Linked DNA regions of Homo sapiens: region 2 is linked to region 1. A link means that fine-mapping ties the variant in region 1 to the expression of a gene that starts in the linked region. Tissue or cell type: thyroid. Region 1 holds a variant in brackets; the other region holds the start of a gene. All regions are shown on one strand. Distances are from middle to middle. Region 1 overlaps CPNE4 (copine 4). Region 2 holds the start of CPNE4 (copine 4).

What was found. PIP is the estimated chance that this variant, and not a neighbour inherited with it, causes the effect.
Region 2: it holds the start of CPNE4, and the variant in region 1 is fine-mapped to the expression of CPNE4 in thyroid (GTEx, PIP 0.98).

The regions. Positions count from the first base shown.
Region 1 is chr3:131,968,062-131,976,402 of GRCh38, reverse strand. All of the region lies in intron 1 of CPNE4 (copine 4), which reads left to right. Among named protein-coding and RNA genes, the nearest start is that of MIR5704, 14 kb to the left of the region's middle. The variant A/TTA (reference allele first, on the strand shown) is at 4,038.
Region 2 is chr3:132,030,861-132,039,201 of GRCh38, reverse strand. CPNE4 (copine 4) reads left to right here and starts at 4,188. Exons shown (of 16, transcript NM_130808.3): 1 at 4,188-4,635. RefSeq lists a silencer at 3,964-4,063 and an enhancer at 4,439-4,608.

The DNA.
Region 1 (8,341 bases):
TATAAAGGGAAAAGAGCTTTGGTGAACTTTATCAAAGTTTTTGTTGCTGTTGTGTTTTCATTTGTTTGTTTGTTTTTATATGAAGCAAACTTATTTTTTAATTGGAAAAATAAGCCATGGTCTAAGTATTAAAAAAAAAATTAAACCCTACAAAAGTAAGTCTCACTCCTAGCCCAGGCTTCTGACCCTAGCCTTCTTTCCCATATACAATCATTAATACCACTGTGACCCTTCTAGAAACACTTTAAGGTAGAATGTTTTACAGGAGGTTGAGGGAGGGAGAAAAGAATGAGAGTGCATTCTTTAAAAAAAAAAAAAAAACCAACAATATTGACAGATTATTAAGTTTTAAAAAAAGTCCTATAGTTTTTTTTTAAATATCAGCATCCATAAGTCTACTTTAATCTTTGTCACAACTGCATAGTATGGATATGTTATCTATTTTACCGCACCGTATCAGAGGACATTTAAATTATTTAATTTATTGTTTATTATGTTTGTTTATTTCACTGTTACAAGCCATGATGTGATGGTCATCCTTATTTGCATGTCATTTCCTCATAACCTGATATATTTGTTGGATAAGTTCTGCGTACACTAGGCATACATATCTATGCATGCATATATATGTTTATGATTCGAATACACAAACAGAAGTGCTAAGAACTTCAGCCTATACTCTGATTTCCCTACCTTACAAAGTCCCTTAGGATAGCAACTGGTACAAAATTACCTGATTCTTTTCAGGGTCACCTTTCATTTCCCTCCATAGGTGTAAATGTCACGGTGTTTATTTCTGCAGTGTAGGCATTCAGGGCCTGCAGAAGCAGTGTGGGTAGATTTCCCTGGATATGAGGTGAACTATGCTGAAGAAGTTAGAGCCAGCTGCACTCAGGGCTTGTCATAGTTTTAGAATGTTTTCATAGAAGCCTAGGCTGATAGCAATGGGAGAAGCCTCGGGTAAATGAATCCAATCCTCCCCATTCCCAAAGTAGAAGGACTAGGCAGCTAGGAGAAGTCATTCTCATGCCCAGGTAACTCACTCAAGTTGCCAACCGGGGTTTTTCTATCACACCATGAAAACCTGTGCTTCTGTCCTATATTGCCTGGAGGCTGACTTTCTTATCGCTTCCTGTTTCTCCTCATGACTTTGACTGGGTTCTCTTAACTTGCAGGCTTAGTGTTGAAAGGGACATTTAAAAGCCCCAGAACCTAGTTAAAATTTGACAGGCGGTTCTCTCTTGCAGGATAGGTTTTGCCAACTCCCCTGAGGCTGCAATCTCAATTTGATGACGGTTTTAAAGCCATTGTTAAAAATGAATAATACGAATTTTGAAAAAAATTTGATGGTTCTCTGTCTTTATTTCTCTTTACTTATTTATTTATTTGATTTTTGAGACAGGGTCTGGCTCTGTCACCCAGCCTGGAGTGCAGGGGTGCAATCTCCGCTCATGGGAACCTCCACCTCCCAGGCTCAAGCCATCCTCCCCCCTCAGCCTCCCGAGCAGCTGGGACTACAGGTGTGCACCACCACGCCGGGCTAATTTTTGTACTGTTTGTAGAGACAGGGTTTTGCCATGTTGCCCAGGCTGGTCTCGAACTCCTGAGCTCAAGCAATCCACCTGCCTTAGCCTCCCAAAGTGCTAGGATTACATACGTGAGCCACTGGGCCCAGCCCATCTCTTTTTCTTTAATCCCTTTTGAACAGTCTGAGGTGGCAAGAGAAACAATGGGCAGATAGGCTTGGCCCTGTTCACAGAGTATGGGAGGCAGGGAGGAGCAAGCAGAGACTTTTCTGTGAATGGTAACCTTAATGAATCAGATCACATTTGAGTTGGCCCTTTTCTCATTACAGGCAGAGAAGGTAGATGCTGCTTGGTATCTTTTCTCAGCTGAATTTACTTCCAGACAAGCAGGTCATCTGTTAGAGTCATTTAAGCTGAGTGTGCTATGACAAGGAGAGTTGGGAAGTCAGTACATATGTGCATGCATGTATTAGGTGTGTGTATGTGCACATTGTATGTATATACATGTGCATTCACTGTAGATGCGTATATACATACATGCACATGTGTGTATAGATGCAGGCATATGCACATAACACATATGTACACATATATGTGCACAAGACATTTTACAATTACCATTGTGAAGGAAAATAGAAATTAAGGACTTTCATTAACCTCTTCCAGGGAGAGAAAAAAGAAACTAATGTATTAAGACCTGAGAACAGAAAGTTCTGACAAAAGCAAGAGTGTTTCCCTTTTTAGAATGAAAAGTCTCTGGTAGGACAGATTCTGTCCAAATACCTCCTTTCTACCACAAACAGGATTTTAATGACAGCCCTTCCCTTGTAAATTTACATGGAGGTATCTCTATTGACTCTCGTTGCCATGGTGATTCAAAGAAACTGGTCTGGGACTGCAGTTTGGGATAACATTTTTCAAATAGGGTAAGGAGCCCAGGAATGCAGACTTTGTGGCTTGACAATCTGCTCTATTCTTAGGGTAAAAAATAACGTTACGCTTGGCAAACCAATTATGTTTTTGACAAGATAAATGCTTTTGACGTTATTCCTATTCTTCCTGGGTAATAGTTAAGTAGATAAACAAATTAAATTGACCTTAGAGATAAAAATTCATGCCCATTCTTCCACTGCTATAACTGTTCAAAACATTCTTTCCAGATTTCTTTGGAATGGATACATTTTGATGTGGGAGAAGTCATTCAGTATACTGAGTTGAAAACATTAATACTGGTATCAAATTGCCTGGGTTTGAATACCAGCTCTGCCACCAGCTCTGCTGGGAGACCTTGAAAAAATTACTTAAACTTTTTGATTCTCAGCTTCCTTGTTTGCCAATGGAGATGATAATAGTATCTATCATTAAAAGCTGTGCTGAAGAATAAGTTAATCAATATATGTAAGGCACTTAGAATCATGCCTGATCCATATCAGAGGCTATAGAAATATCAGATATCATCATCATCACATATTTCTATTATTATTATTACTACATTGATTCTTCTTGGGAAAAAATTGACATTTTTTTTGCACCCTACATAGATGGACTCTGGGGAGAAGAAACAGTCCATAGAACAGAGGCTTGGTAGAACTTTGAAATGACAGGAATTCTTTCAAGATCACCTAAAAATCTTTTTGAACACAGCTGAAAATCTCCAGCCTTTCTTTTCTTCCTTTAAACTCAGGTTTCATTATCTTTTAAGATGGCTATGATACCACAGATCCGTTGTACAAAATGACTTTTTTCCAGGTCACCACACACACTGTGAGTTTATGCTAAATCCCACTCTGCTGTTACAACCAGTTGGGATTTTTAGGGCCAAAAAGGTGAGTTAAGGGGTGTATGTACATTGATGAAATAAAAGGTGAGACTTAAGCTAGTTGTAGACCTTTGTATGCTCCAATTCTTTTAAAAAAATATATGAGAAAGCTGGGACTTCAGAGAAAGATTAGGAGTAAAACCGATTGTATTAGTGCTTTGTTGCCACGCTTTGAGACTTGTGATTTCAGAATGGCAGATCTGAGATAAGTTCACTGGGAACATCTGGTCCAGCCTTCCCATTTATGGAGGAGGAAGTAGAATCCTAGAAACATGAGTAGCTTGCCTGAGGTCAGCTAGGGAGGGAAGAACAAATGCAGGATGAGAGCCTAGATCACTTCTGGCCCAGTTCAGAGCTACCTTAAAAATAGAGCCATTTAGAGCTCTGTACCATATGGCCTTCTCCCTTTGTGTCTTCAACTAGGTCCTGTTGTGAGCTGTAGGAATGGGTTTTTTAGCCCCTTGACACTGTTGAATGATTCTTCTCGGATGTGAGGGGCACCGTTTGTTCCATGAGAGCAGCAGCTTCCTTGGGGGCCCGATGTTTTTCTTTTGAAATTCCAACAGGAAAGACCAGAATTCCATGTTCCCAATAATGCCATCTGTTTATTTGAAAGGGGACAAAAGATCACTGGGGATTGGCATTTGTTCTAGCTCTCTGCACTTTACCTCATACAAAGAAACTCTGCTTGT[A/TTA]AGTGCTATGATGAGGCTCCAAGTTGGCTAGCTGAACTTGAGGAATTCATCGGGCAGAGAACTATAGACTTTCAGTCATACAGAAGTATGTACTTGTTGCTGCCAGTGAGACCTTTGTGCGCCAAGGGAGTGTTGATGTGTAACCCTTAGTATTTTCATTGGCTTCAGCGTCTCTGAAAGAACAGCATTTACTGTCTTCTGAGAAGATAGGTATTTCTTTTTGTTGATTTTTCTTTTTTTTTCCCTCTCTCTCTAAAGGATAGAAGATAAGAAGTTTTATAATCCTAATCCTGACACTCAGTTGCCATGAACATTTTCTTCTCTTAAATGTATGTCCTTTGCCATTCTCTCATTTACCCACTCATCCAACAGTTCTTTCTGTAAACATTCATTAAACACCTACCAAGTGCCAGACACTGAGCTAAATGCAAGAGAAACAAAGGCAAATCATATGTAAGTCTGAAGGAACAAGGGGAGAGGGAAATTGTTGGGACTAGAGAAAATAGCTGTCATTCTAGAGGGGCATGCCTGCCTGGGGCTGTGGCCTTAGCTCAGCTACAGGAATGGGATCAACTACAGTGACTTGGAAGCTGAAGGGCAATGGTCTTGCTCACTCTCCTGTTGGTCTTTGCTTCCCTGCCAGTGTCCCCCATTGACTGCCCCCAGATGGAAACCTAAGGGCAAGGTACCCTTAGAGACCAGACTTCCAGGGAATATAGCAAAGGTAGAGAGTGCAACTGAAGGGCCAAGAAAAATATTGAGCACAGTAAAGTTTTGTAAATGAGTTCAGATAACCCTCTGGGGCAAAAAGGAAGGCATTTAAACTTGTAAAGGAATTACTTTTTGCTTGTTAAATGTTAACGTAGTGACTGGAGTTTTTGGACCTAATGATATCTTAGGGAATCAGAGAAGCGTTGAAGAGATTGTGGTTCTATGGTATAAAAAAGATAGTTCCAAATGTTTGCTGGTACTCTCATTGAGACATGGAATTACCGTTCCTTCTGTGAGAGCTGGATGCCTTTTACTGGTCTTCTTTGACTGGTGAAATTCAGTAGAAGTGATGTTCTAGGACTTACAAGTCTAGGTCATAAGAAGTCTTGCATATTATGTGTTAGAACATTCTCTCTGGGAACTTTAACCTTTGACCCACCCTGTAAGAAATCTAACTACCCTGAAACTACCGTGTCAGCACTCCAGTTAACAGACCCAGCTGAGCTCTGCCTTCTAGATGTTGTCCCCACGGCGTCAGACATGTGACTGTAACCATCTTGGACTCTTTAGATCTTTCTAGCTGCCAGATGAACACCGCTGAGTGACCTCATCTATGCCATATGGAACAGAAGAATCATCTAGCAGATGATCTAGTGATCTGAGAATTGATCCTTCTCAAATTCCTGGCCTACAAAAATTATGAGATAAAATTAAATGGTTTTTGTTTTAACCCACTACGTTTTGGGGCAGTTTGTTAGGCAGCAACAGATAATTGGGAAATGCTGCTACCCTCTCAGATTGATGATCCGTTCATTCTATATCTACATTAATAATGGGAAGTAACAACAATCCTCCACTAACCCCTACACATACATATATTCACAATACAACTTTAACCTTCCATTTCTATGATAAGTGATCTAGCTAGATCATGAAATCTAATGTGAAGCTGTTTAACTCTGGAGGTATTTTGATATATGGAAGTGGAAAAAGTGATAAAAAGCAGTAGCTCTAGAGGACCTAGAAAGTGCAGCATAAGGAAAGATTATAAACCCCATCCCCTTAAATTGCCTTTAAATAAAAGTTTAATTTAAAAAAACTATATAAATTATATGCTTCTTGCCCAAATGCCCCATCAAGGAAACAAACTCATTCATGTCAGAACAAACTTTGGGATTAGACCAATTTCTAAGAAAAAAATGCAAGAGGGAAATGTGCAGCTAATGAGACTTAATGGGGAAAAAGAGCTAATATTTATTAAGCACTGTATTGGTCAGCATACACTGGATTATATCACTGTAACAAATAAGCTCCAAATCTCAGTGACTTGTACAAGAAAAGCTCATGTCTTGCTTTGGCTACAGGTCAAAGTTAGGTTGGTATCTGTGTGGGGGTTGGTGTGTCTTCACTCACTGAAGTTATGCAGAGACACAGATAAGTGAAGCTTCATCTCAACATGTGATTCCACTATCTCTAGAGCATTAGAAAAGGGAAATGGCAGCTCATATACTGATTCTCAAAGTGAAACAGATGACTCGTATTTCCATTTCACTGGCCAAAGCAAGTCATATGGCTCTATACCCAAATTTCAGAGGGCAGGGAAGTTTGACTGGAAGAGGACAGAGCTGGAAATCCTTCGTAAACAGCACCAATTATGAACACAAGCATCTGTTATGGAGCAGACACTTTGCTAGGCATGTCTCATTCAATTCTGACAAAATCCATTATATAGGTAGAAGACAGGCCTACAGAGGTCAAGCACCTTGTCTGTGGTTACACAGCTGGTAATTGAGGAGGAGAGCCTGGAACTGAGGTCCTTAGGTCTGATTTCAAAGTGCATGCTTTTGTTTTGTTTTGTTTTATTTGACATGATGCTCACCAAGCATATACATGTCATTTAGGAACTAGAGAGGACAGTGAAGAGAATTTAATAATTTTATTTGTATTTTGGAGTCACTTTAATCTATAAAGCACCCTGCTGCCCCTTAGACCTGTGCTCTGAAGTGCACCAAGATGGTTGGTAAGTTACCGAGTCTCCACTGTGTTGAGAGCACTGTTCTTAGTCAGTGAGAAGAAAGAAAAAAAATCAGAAAACAGCCTCAAGTGTCCTTGAGAGTTTATTATATGCTAAAAATTAAGAGACAAATATCCTTTACAAAAGGCTTACATATACTTAAAGAGCCTACTTACAGATTAATACATATGCATCTCTTAAGCTTGAACAAGGTGTTTTATTAGATTGGTGCAAAAGTAATTGTAGTTTTTGCCATTACTTTTTTTTTTAATATTTTAAGTTCTGGGATACATGTGCAGAACATGCAGGTTTGTTACATAGGTATACATGTGCCATGGTGGTTTGCTGCACCCATCAACCCGTCAGCTAGGTTTTAAGACCCGCATGCATTAGGTATTTGCCCTAATGCTCTCCCTCCCCTTGCCCCCAACTCCCTGACAGGCCCTGGTGTGTGATGTTCCCCTTCCTGTGTCCATGTGTTCTCATTGTTCAACTCCCACTTATGAGTGAGAACATGCAGTGTTTGGTTTCCTGTTCCTGTGTTAGTTTGCTGAGAATTGTGGTTTCAAGCTTCATCCATGTCCCTGCAAAGGATATGAACTCATACTTTTTTATGGCATCATAGTATTCCATGGTGTATATGTGCCACATTTTCTTTATCCAGTCTATCATCGATGGGCATTTGGGTTGGCTCCAAGTATTTGCTATTGTGAATAGTGCTGCAATAAACATATGTGTGCATGTTCTTTATAGTGGAATGATTTATAATCCTTTGGGTATATACCCAGTAATTGGATTGCTGGGTGAAATGCTATTTCTGGTTCTAGATCCTGGAGGAATTGCCACACTGTCTTCCACAATGGTTGAACTAATTTACACTCCCACCAACAGTGTAAAAAAGTGTTCCTATTTCTCCACATCCTCTCCAGCAGCTGTTGTTTCCTGACTTTTTAATGATTGCCATTCTAACTGGCATGAGATGGTATGTCATTGTGGTTTTGATTTGCATTGCTCTAATGACCAGTGATGATGAGCTTTTTTTCAAATGTTTGTTGGTCGCATAAATGTCTTCTTTTAAAGAAGTGTCTGTTCATATCCTTTGCCCACTTTCGATGGGATTGTTTCTTTCTTGTAAATTTGTTTAAGTTCCTCATAGATTCTGGATATTAGACCTTTGTCAGATGGAGAGATTGCAAACATTTTCTCCCATTCTGTAGGTTGCATGTTCACTGTGATGACAGTTTCTTTTGCTGTGCAGAAGCTCTTTAGTTTAGTTAGATCCCATTTGTCAATTTTGGCCTTTGTTGTAATTGCTTTTGGTGTTTTAGTCATGAAGTCTTTGCCCATGCCTATGTCTTGAATGGTAGTGCCTAGGATATCTTCTAGGGTTTTTATGGTTTTAGGTTTTATATTTAAGTCATTAATCCATTATGAGTTAATTTTTGTATAAGGTGTAAGGAAGGGGTCCAGTTTCAGTTTTCTGAATATCACTAGCCAGTTTTCCCAATACCATTTATTAAATAGGGAATCATTTGCCCATTGCTTGTTTTTGTCAGGTTTGTCAAAGATCAGATGGTTG
Region 2 (8,341 bases), 63 kb before region 1:
CCCTATAACTTCTACTGACATCTCATCTCAATGGCTAGATCAGTGCTATATAACAAAACTTTCTGCAATGATAGAAATGTTCTATATCTGAACTATCCAAGATGTTAGCTACTAGCCACTTATGACTGTTTAGCATTTAAAATGTCACTTGTGGAACTGACAAAATCAACTTTTAATTTTACTTGATTTTAATAAATTTAAATTTAAATAGATACATGTGTCTAGTGGCTACCACAATAAATAGTGCAGGGCTAGACCTTAATCACATCACTACCCCATCTGCAAGAAAAGCTGGAAAATGAAGGTTTGGAGCTAAACACGTTGCTACCCTCCACAAAATTATGTTTTTCTTAGTAAGGAAAAACAAACAAAAATGAATATAGGCTGGGCAGATAACAGCCTCTGCAACCAAGGGATATTTGCTTGCTAATATTCCTTAAGCCCAGAGGAATGGAGTGCTAATGGGTTTATCATAGGCATGAAAAATGGTGTGTCTGGGAAGATATTATGTAGTTAAAAAGCAGAATCTTGGAGCTGGAGTTCAATCCAAATACTTTCTTTTTACAATGAGAAAACTGAGGCTCAGAGGGACAACTGAGAGACCTCATTAATAGAGCAATAGGAAAATCTGCTCTGAAATTATACAGAGCTATTTAGTGGCCTTTATAACATCACTCATGATAAAATGTAAAATCTCAGAAAGAAAATGCCCTCTGCCTATGGTTTTTAAAATACAGGAAAGAAAAGCTAGAGATTTTGATGCCACCTATTGGTAGACAGAAGTATAAACTGCCCTTTCGTAGCACAGGTTGTTACCCAATGTTAGAGGCACCACAGGTGGTATAGGGTTCTCATAAAAAGGAATGACAGACAGTGGAATATTTAATTCCTGCATCAGCTTGCAACATGTATGTTCATTTTCCCTTGACTCTTAGCATCTTAGAAAAAGTGCTTTCTTAGAGTGTTCCTTTCTGCTTTCCAGTAATACATCACACCTCAGGCATATACAGAAACACCAGAGGAAGACATATCAGTCAGTTCTCAAAAATCACTTGAAATAGAAAAAAAGAACAAATTTTTGAGCTATAAATAGCCCTGGGGTGAGATTCAAAGTTCTTATATGATCCACAGCCTCAAAAATATATCCTGTTATTTACAACAGTTTCCTTTAGTAGTTCTTACAGAAAAAAAAAAAAAAGAAAGAAAATAAAAGGAAACAGAAATTCCATTTCAAAACTAAATGCTCACCCTGACTCATTCAGGGAAGGATCCAAGGTTTTTGATGCAGGGCACTGACTCTCTGCCTGTTTTTCCCCTTCATCATCTGCTCCCCTTAAAAAATGGTATCAACTGCATTGGTAAGAATCCACATTTCTTCCCTTTTGTTCCCTGGCTTCATTCCAGGATTTCACTTGTCACACTGATGGGTGAGATGCCTTTCATATTGGCATAAGACACTGAGCGGATGCCTCCTCTTATCTTATCAAACAGAAACCCGGCGAGTGAATCTACCCAGAGCTGAAGCTTCCTTTGCAACTTGGGAACACCAGGGCCACAGTGACTTTGTGGCTTGGCTTTAGATAAATTTGACCATGGCTGTAGAACCCAGCAGCTCAGAATCCATTAAAAGGAGAGCTGGGAGGAGGTGAGTGATAGAGACAAGGGGATTTTGATGTTACAATTGTTGAGGGGACTGTGGCTGGCGGGCAACTTGCTGTGGGGGCAGTGATTGAAAACATGGATTATTAGCTGGTTACAAATCTTCATTTGTACAGATGAGCTGTTGATTTCATATAAGAGGTGGAAGTAAATTCTGCTTTATGTGCCCTGTAAAAAGCTTCTTTGAATTTACCTTCAGTGTCATGCCTTCAGAAAAAAATTCCAAGTTTCTGGCATAAAGCTGCACGTTTTCTGCGCACTGGCATGCAGGCAACTGTTTGTTTCTAATTACGGAGCTGAAGCCTGCTGGCAAAGGAAACCATATTTGTCACAAGTTGTGGCATTGTGTTTAGTTTGTGTATCTATGCTTTTAACATGTAGGGCCAAAGATAACTATGTTGTTTTTCTTTTTCCCTATGAGCATTGACTCTATAACTTCTTTTCTATGGTCCATGTGTTCACTTATTCTAGCTGCCCCTTTAGAGACTGCTTCAATGAACAACCCCTATCCTCCCATTAACTAGTTGTGTTCCCTGGTCTGGTCATTTCAACCGCCCACACCCTGGATTTATTTTTGTAGATATAGTAAAACTTTCTTGGGCAGGTTGTTGTAAAAATTAAATGGGATGGTAAGTAGAGTGCCTAACAGATTGCCTGGAAATAGTACATGCTCAGCACATCTTAATTCCTTTTCTCTCACCTGTAATATAAGAAGTTTATGTTGAATGGTCCCTAAGGTATTTATATTATTTTTAATTTTATAAATGTAGAAGGTGGTAGACACCTTTCTAGGCATTGGGGTTATAATTATGAACAAGACGACAAAACAGACATATCCCTTGCCTTCATAGAAATTAAATTTTAGAGGATACAATTAACATGCAAGGAAATGCACAATGACTTTTCCTTCTTCTTCCTTCATCTTTGCAAGTTCAATCCAATTCAAATTTTGAGTTTATCTCTGAGGCTACCTCTTAACAAAACCTGGAAGTAATGTTTTTGGACTTAACATTTTCATATTTAGTAGTCATACACTGGTTTTGCCTGCTTAGCATCCGTCTCCCCTTTCCTGGTAGGAGGACCCTGAATATCCCTTGGAGAATTGTCCCTGTGTCTCACTCGCAATGTGTGTAGATCAGGTGGGGCTCCATCCTGGCTCCAGGAGTGCTATAGAAGACATCACATGCTCCTAGACATTGTGGAAGTCCTGGCCCATTAGTGTAATTCCATATCCAAAGGTCACAACGATTGACTTATGCATAGCCATGTGACCCAAGTTTTTGCAATCAAAGCAAATCCAAGGATTTCTGTGGTAGTTTCAGTGTACAGAGAAGCTCCCTGAGGTCCTTTCCAGGGTCCATGTTTAGTGTTATCCTATTTCAGAAAGGCTTTAGAGGTGACTGAAAGAAGAAAAATGTTATTTGTGTTCTGTCAGAAGGTTGTCCCTTTGTTTATCAAAGATATTTCTGTCTACTTCTATAGAACAATTAAGAGGGGGTCTTCCTCCTTACCCTATTGGTTCTCCTTTTCTGGACTTTGAAATTGAGAACTTCATGGTTAGTGAAAAGATTTTGGCTAATATCTCCTCCAACCTTCAGGTTGGAGAGGCTTTGTTAGATAGCCCCTTAATAGGGTGAGAAGGAAGACCTTCCATCTCCCCTCCACGTTAGATGTAACACACTCTATACCATCCCAATGTCAGAAAGAGACCGTCATTCACTTTACTTCATTAATTCCAAAGTCCAATTTGTGAGTCTGACAATACCAATGTGCAGAGAGAATTTAGTTGTCTAGTTTGTCTATGGTAGCAGACATAATCAGAAACAATGCCCTGTATTTGAATAAGTTCATTTGTCTGAATTTGAATAAGTTTGAAATAGGAAGGCCATACTTTCTCTCTAAAGTGCTTTAAAACATGTGGAAGTGGTCACCCCTTACATAAGACAGCATATTTATATCTATCTTTAAGCATAAGTACTCCCTAAGTATTTCTTTATCTTATTTGTGAGGTAGATGTATTCAGAAACTCATCATGAGATGAAGAAAATACTCTTTGTCCATTAATTTACTCATGCATTACTTACTAAAAATAATTTCCAGGCTCCTGCCATACGCCAGACAGTTTTGTAGACACGAAGGATCCAGAGATTAGCAACACCTTTACCATTTTTGGTGACAGTTAAGCACCCATCTAAGAAGTTTTCTTTGGTGAGTGCCAAAAAGTGTAACTCCCATTCCCCCCACACCCGCGCCGCGATACGACCGCTCCACCCTAGAGTGGAGATGGAGACCAAGCACTTGGAGATCTAAATCAAGTGTCCCCAGGAGCTCAGTTGAGCGACAAAGCTGAGCAGAAAGCCCAGACTGCGGGCGCGGCAGGACCACGGAGAGCGCCGCCGCCAAGGCCTGGGCGGGGCCTGAGCTCGGGTTCCCGGGGCAATGCTCGTCTCCGTCAGCAACCCCCAGGGGGCGCTCGCGCGGAGGTTTCGGAACCAGTCTCTTGCCGGGTTGCTGGGTGCATGGGATTCGTCAGAAGGTGGAAATCTCTCTGTGAGAAGCTGCCATCTCCCCGCCACCCGCTCGTCCCCTTCTCTTTCTGCCACCCTCCTTTCCTTCCTCCCTCGCTCCACTCCACTCCCTCCCTCTTTTCTCAGTACCCTCCTCTTTACTCTCCGAGTTAACTGAGAGCCGACCTGACATCTCCAACATTTTCACCCTCTTCCCCCACCCCCATCACCGAGAATGGAGTCAGGGTTTCCGGAGAGACCGAACTCTGCTCTCAGCACCTTTCCCAGCCGCTGTTGCTAAACTGACCTCGGAGGACGAGAGGGGAAGGAGGTGCGACGCCCCTTACATCAGTACAAAACTACCACACCAACCACCTCCACTTCAAAGCCGGATTTTGCATCCTGGGGGCGGGACAGACCTCGTCCCGGGCTGAATTCTCTCTCCACTCTTCGAGATTGGCACACCCAGGTAAGTAAATGCCAACTCTTCATTCCTGTGTTCCTGGGGCGCTGTGATTGCAAAGTCTGTTGGAGCTGCTGCGTAGCAAGACCAACTTTTGAGATGCACTGGTTCTCGCTCACCTTTGCACGTTTGTCATTGCTGTTGTTGTTTTAAAAAGCAGCAGCAAGCAACGTCTTTAATCTGAAGGGACTTCCATCCCCTACCTCTCGCCTTCTGACATCCACCCAACTCGCCCAGGTGGGGTGGGGCGAATGGAGTTGGGGAGAAAGACCGCGGAGGGGAGGGGACAGCATGGCACGGGTGAGGGATAGGTCAGGGAAGTCCCGAAGGCGGAAGAAGGGGTACGGTTTTCAAAATCGGGGAAGGGGAGGGGAAGGGAGTTCTGGCTGAAGTTGCAGCTTCCTCTCTGACAGTGAGAAAGCTGTGGGACATTGTAGTCCCTTCCAATGGCTTGACCTGGCTGCGGTTGGATTCAGCCTCTCAACCTCCTCCCCCACACTTCTTACAATGAGGTTCTAATAATATTTTAGTTGCCTCTTCTCAGTGTTAAAAACTAATGAATAGGCTTGCAAGTGCTTTGATTCAACGTAGTCCTTCAGCGCTTCTTCCTCTATGGAATAAAGTAGCCAGAAGGAAAGGGGGACGGGGACAGGGGACGGGACTGGAGGGACCACTGAAACCAAGCCACAGCTGAGTAAGGAGATCACGACCCCGCGTGGTATCACAGACACACGAGAACTGTTAGGGCTGAATCCAATGGAGATAATTAGGAGGTGGTCCACGCCAAGTCAAGCGAGTGCTGATTACCATCCGGTGAGGAGCAGGCTAAACCCTGATGAAAAATGCTCCTCCTTCATCTTGGAGTAGGTGGGCTTTAAGGCCCTATTTCCCATTCTATGTTCCAAATCTGACGGCGCCCCAGGGCGCCTTGGCGGATTGCCTTTCAGCCCCAGAACCTGCTAGGCTCCAGGGAAAGTCACAGGCGGCAGAGATGATCCAAGGGGCGCAAATCTATGAAGGGCTTGATGTGGGTGGTTGGGAAGTGGAGGGGGGAAAGGTGAGCAGAGTGAGGCGGGAGGGGGCTAGGGAAGCGAGAGTGCTCTGGGAAGCTTTGCAAGAGAGACATCTGAGAACCTCTCCCTCTACACACACACACACACACACACAGACACACACACACACTCACACACTCTCACAGGATTTCAGTGACTTGTGGGAAAAGATGCCTCAGCACCTTTACACCCTGTGTTCAAAACTATGCAAAACCAACTCTTCATCCTCTTGCTGCTTTGCCAGGGATTTTAAAAGCACTGTTCTGGTTTTTCTTGGCTCACTTGGTTTTGTTTCCTGAACAGCACTTTTGAGCTGTCCAAGATACTTTAATATGTTATCTTTAAATGAAACTAAATCCTGCTCATTCGCGCGCCCCCGCGCGCACACATACACAGGCGTACACAATTACCTTAACTTCAAATAAAGTGTTCTTTTCTCCATACTCTTCTATTCCCTTAACAATCCCTGTTCTCAAAGGCCTTTGTGTTTTATTTTCTGCTTTATAACAAAACAAAAAAACAAACACCCACCGTCCTATGACACAGGTGTTTTGAATCCATGTCAATTTTTGTAGTTAGTATATGCTGGTTAAACCACATAGCATATCCCCCAAAAAGCCAGAGGCAAGCAAAAACTTAATTTGATGCCCTTCAAGTTTCGGAAGGTCCCATTTCTTTTTATTAACCAAAAGATAAGATGAAGCTCAGCATGGCTATGGCTGTGATTAGATAACTTCTGATATTTTCATTTCCCTTACCGAGCTGCTGCTTCTAGGCTGAACTCATTCACCTGCCCATTTTTAAAGAGAGACTGACAAAGTCACTCTGGCAGGTCAGGACTCAGAGTTAGTCAAAAGTTCTCACATGTAGAGAGGTGCATAAAATAGAGGGAGGGTTGGAAAATGCAGTCAGAACACCTGTGTTAATAGTGCATACTAATAAAGGCCAACATTTTCTCAACTATCTCTCATGGGAAGATTCTTATGGTTTTAGAGGATCAAACTCAAAACACATCAGAATGAGGTGACTTTTCCATTAACATTACATAAAAGGATATATTGGTCTATAGCAATAGTAGATGTTTAATCCTGGGCAGTTTTGTATGATTGTGTGAGAAGAGATTGCCTATAATTGAACCAAACCTCTACTTATGTGTTAACAAGTAAAAACTCCCATGGCCATCAAACTTATGCCTTTCCTGTGAGTGGTCAACCTTATTTTTATTCTCCCAGACACAGGCCCAGCATATTTGACTGGGAGAAGGCACAGATGCGGTACAGTGACTTCCCAGTTTGAGATAGTTGCTTTACTAAAATTCCTAAATATTTCTTTGAAAATAGTTGCTCTGAGTTGTTTCTTAAGTGTAAAAAGAAATTAAAAGACTTCCTGTTTATCTCCAAGTCTCCAGTAGCAACATGACATTTTGGTGAATTATTGGTTTGTCTTAAGGGGACTCTGGTTTTAGAGGTTTTAATTAAAAGGTGTTTGTTCTAAAGTATACTTAATCTGCTTGTGTATTTCTAATTAAAAATACCTCATTTCAGTTAGTAGGAAGTAAAGATGTTATCTGTTTATAGAGAAGTTTTATGTAATATTCCAAAACAATAGAAAAAAGCTTTGATTCTTTTAAATAATTAGATTATTCAAGCCCATTATTATGACTTAAAACCTTGAGGTTATACTGACTATAAGAAACAATCACAGACCAAAAAAAATGGGTTAATGGTGGAATCTTTATTCTCATATGTATTTGAATCTTTTGGAATTAATACTGAACACATTTATAAGGTTTGCACTATGCCTTCTTCTGACTTCACTTCGAAAATTCTTTGAAATGTAACACCCTAGAACATTATGTTACCTTTATCCACATAAAGAAAGGATCTTTTCATTTAGAGATGAACTTATTGAAGATGAGCCGTCAGTGTTGTGTGTAATCAATACCACACATTTTCAGAGTGGTCTGAATCCAGAACAAAGAATGAGACAGGTACTCTGATGATATCAACTTGGCTAATTGGGTAAAAGTCTCTACACTAGTTGGGAAAAATCACTTCATGCATCTTTGTATTTTTTAATCAGTGGTGTGTAAGAAGATCTGTATTCCGTGCACTTTGAAGAGAGAAAGGGCTAAATTTGTGTTCCATATTTGATCTTTCCATTTTTGTCTTGTTAATATTTTAAAAGAAAAACAAAAACCTTTGCAGATCCATTCAGTAACCCAAAGTCATATTTCCTTGGCAACAGTAGCCAGTACACTAGATTTACAAAATATCAAAATAGAAAAATTTAAATGCATTCAAAATAAAATGTCACATAGTTCAAGACCATTCTTTGGTGCATTAAAACTGATCTTCCAACATGTAATAATACAGTTGCCTTTCTCCTGATTGAATGTAGATGGCAAAGAATAGATTACTGATTTTAATTCTTTTTAAGATGTCCCCAAAATCTTATAATATTTTCTTTTCAGGGAAGCACATTATGATAATAATTTAGGTTGGGGTTACACATCCATTTTTTGGATAAAGTATTTATGTGATAGTTGATGGTAAATCCAAAAATCAAGCACAATAAATGGGTCAGGTAAGATGCATCATCTTTTCTATGTTATTTGAAATAGTCTATAGTAAGGCCTCAATTAGTGTTAAACTCAGTGA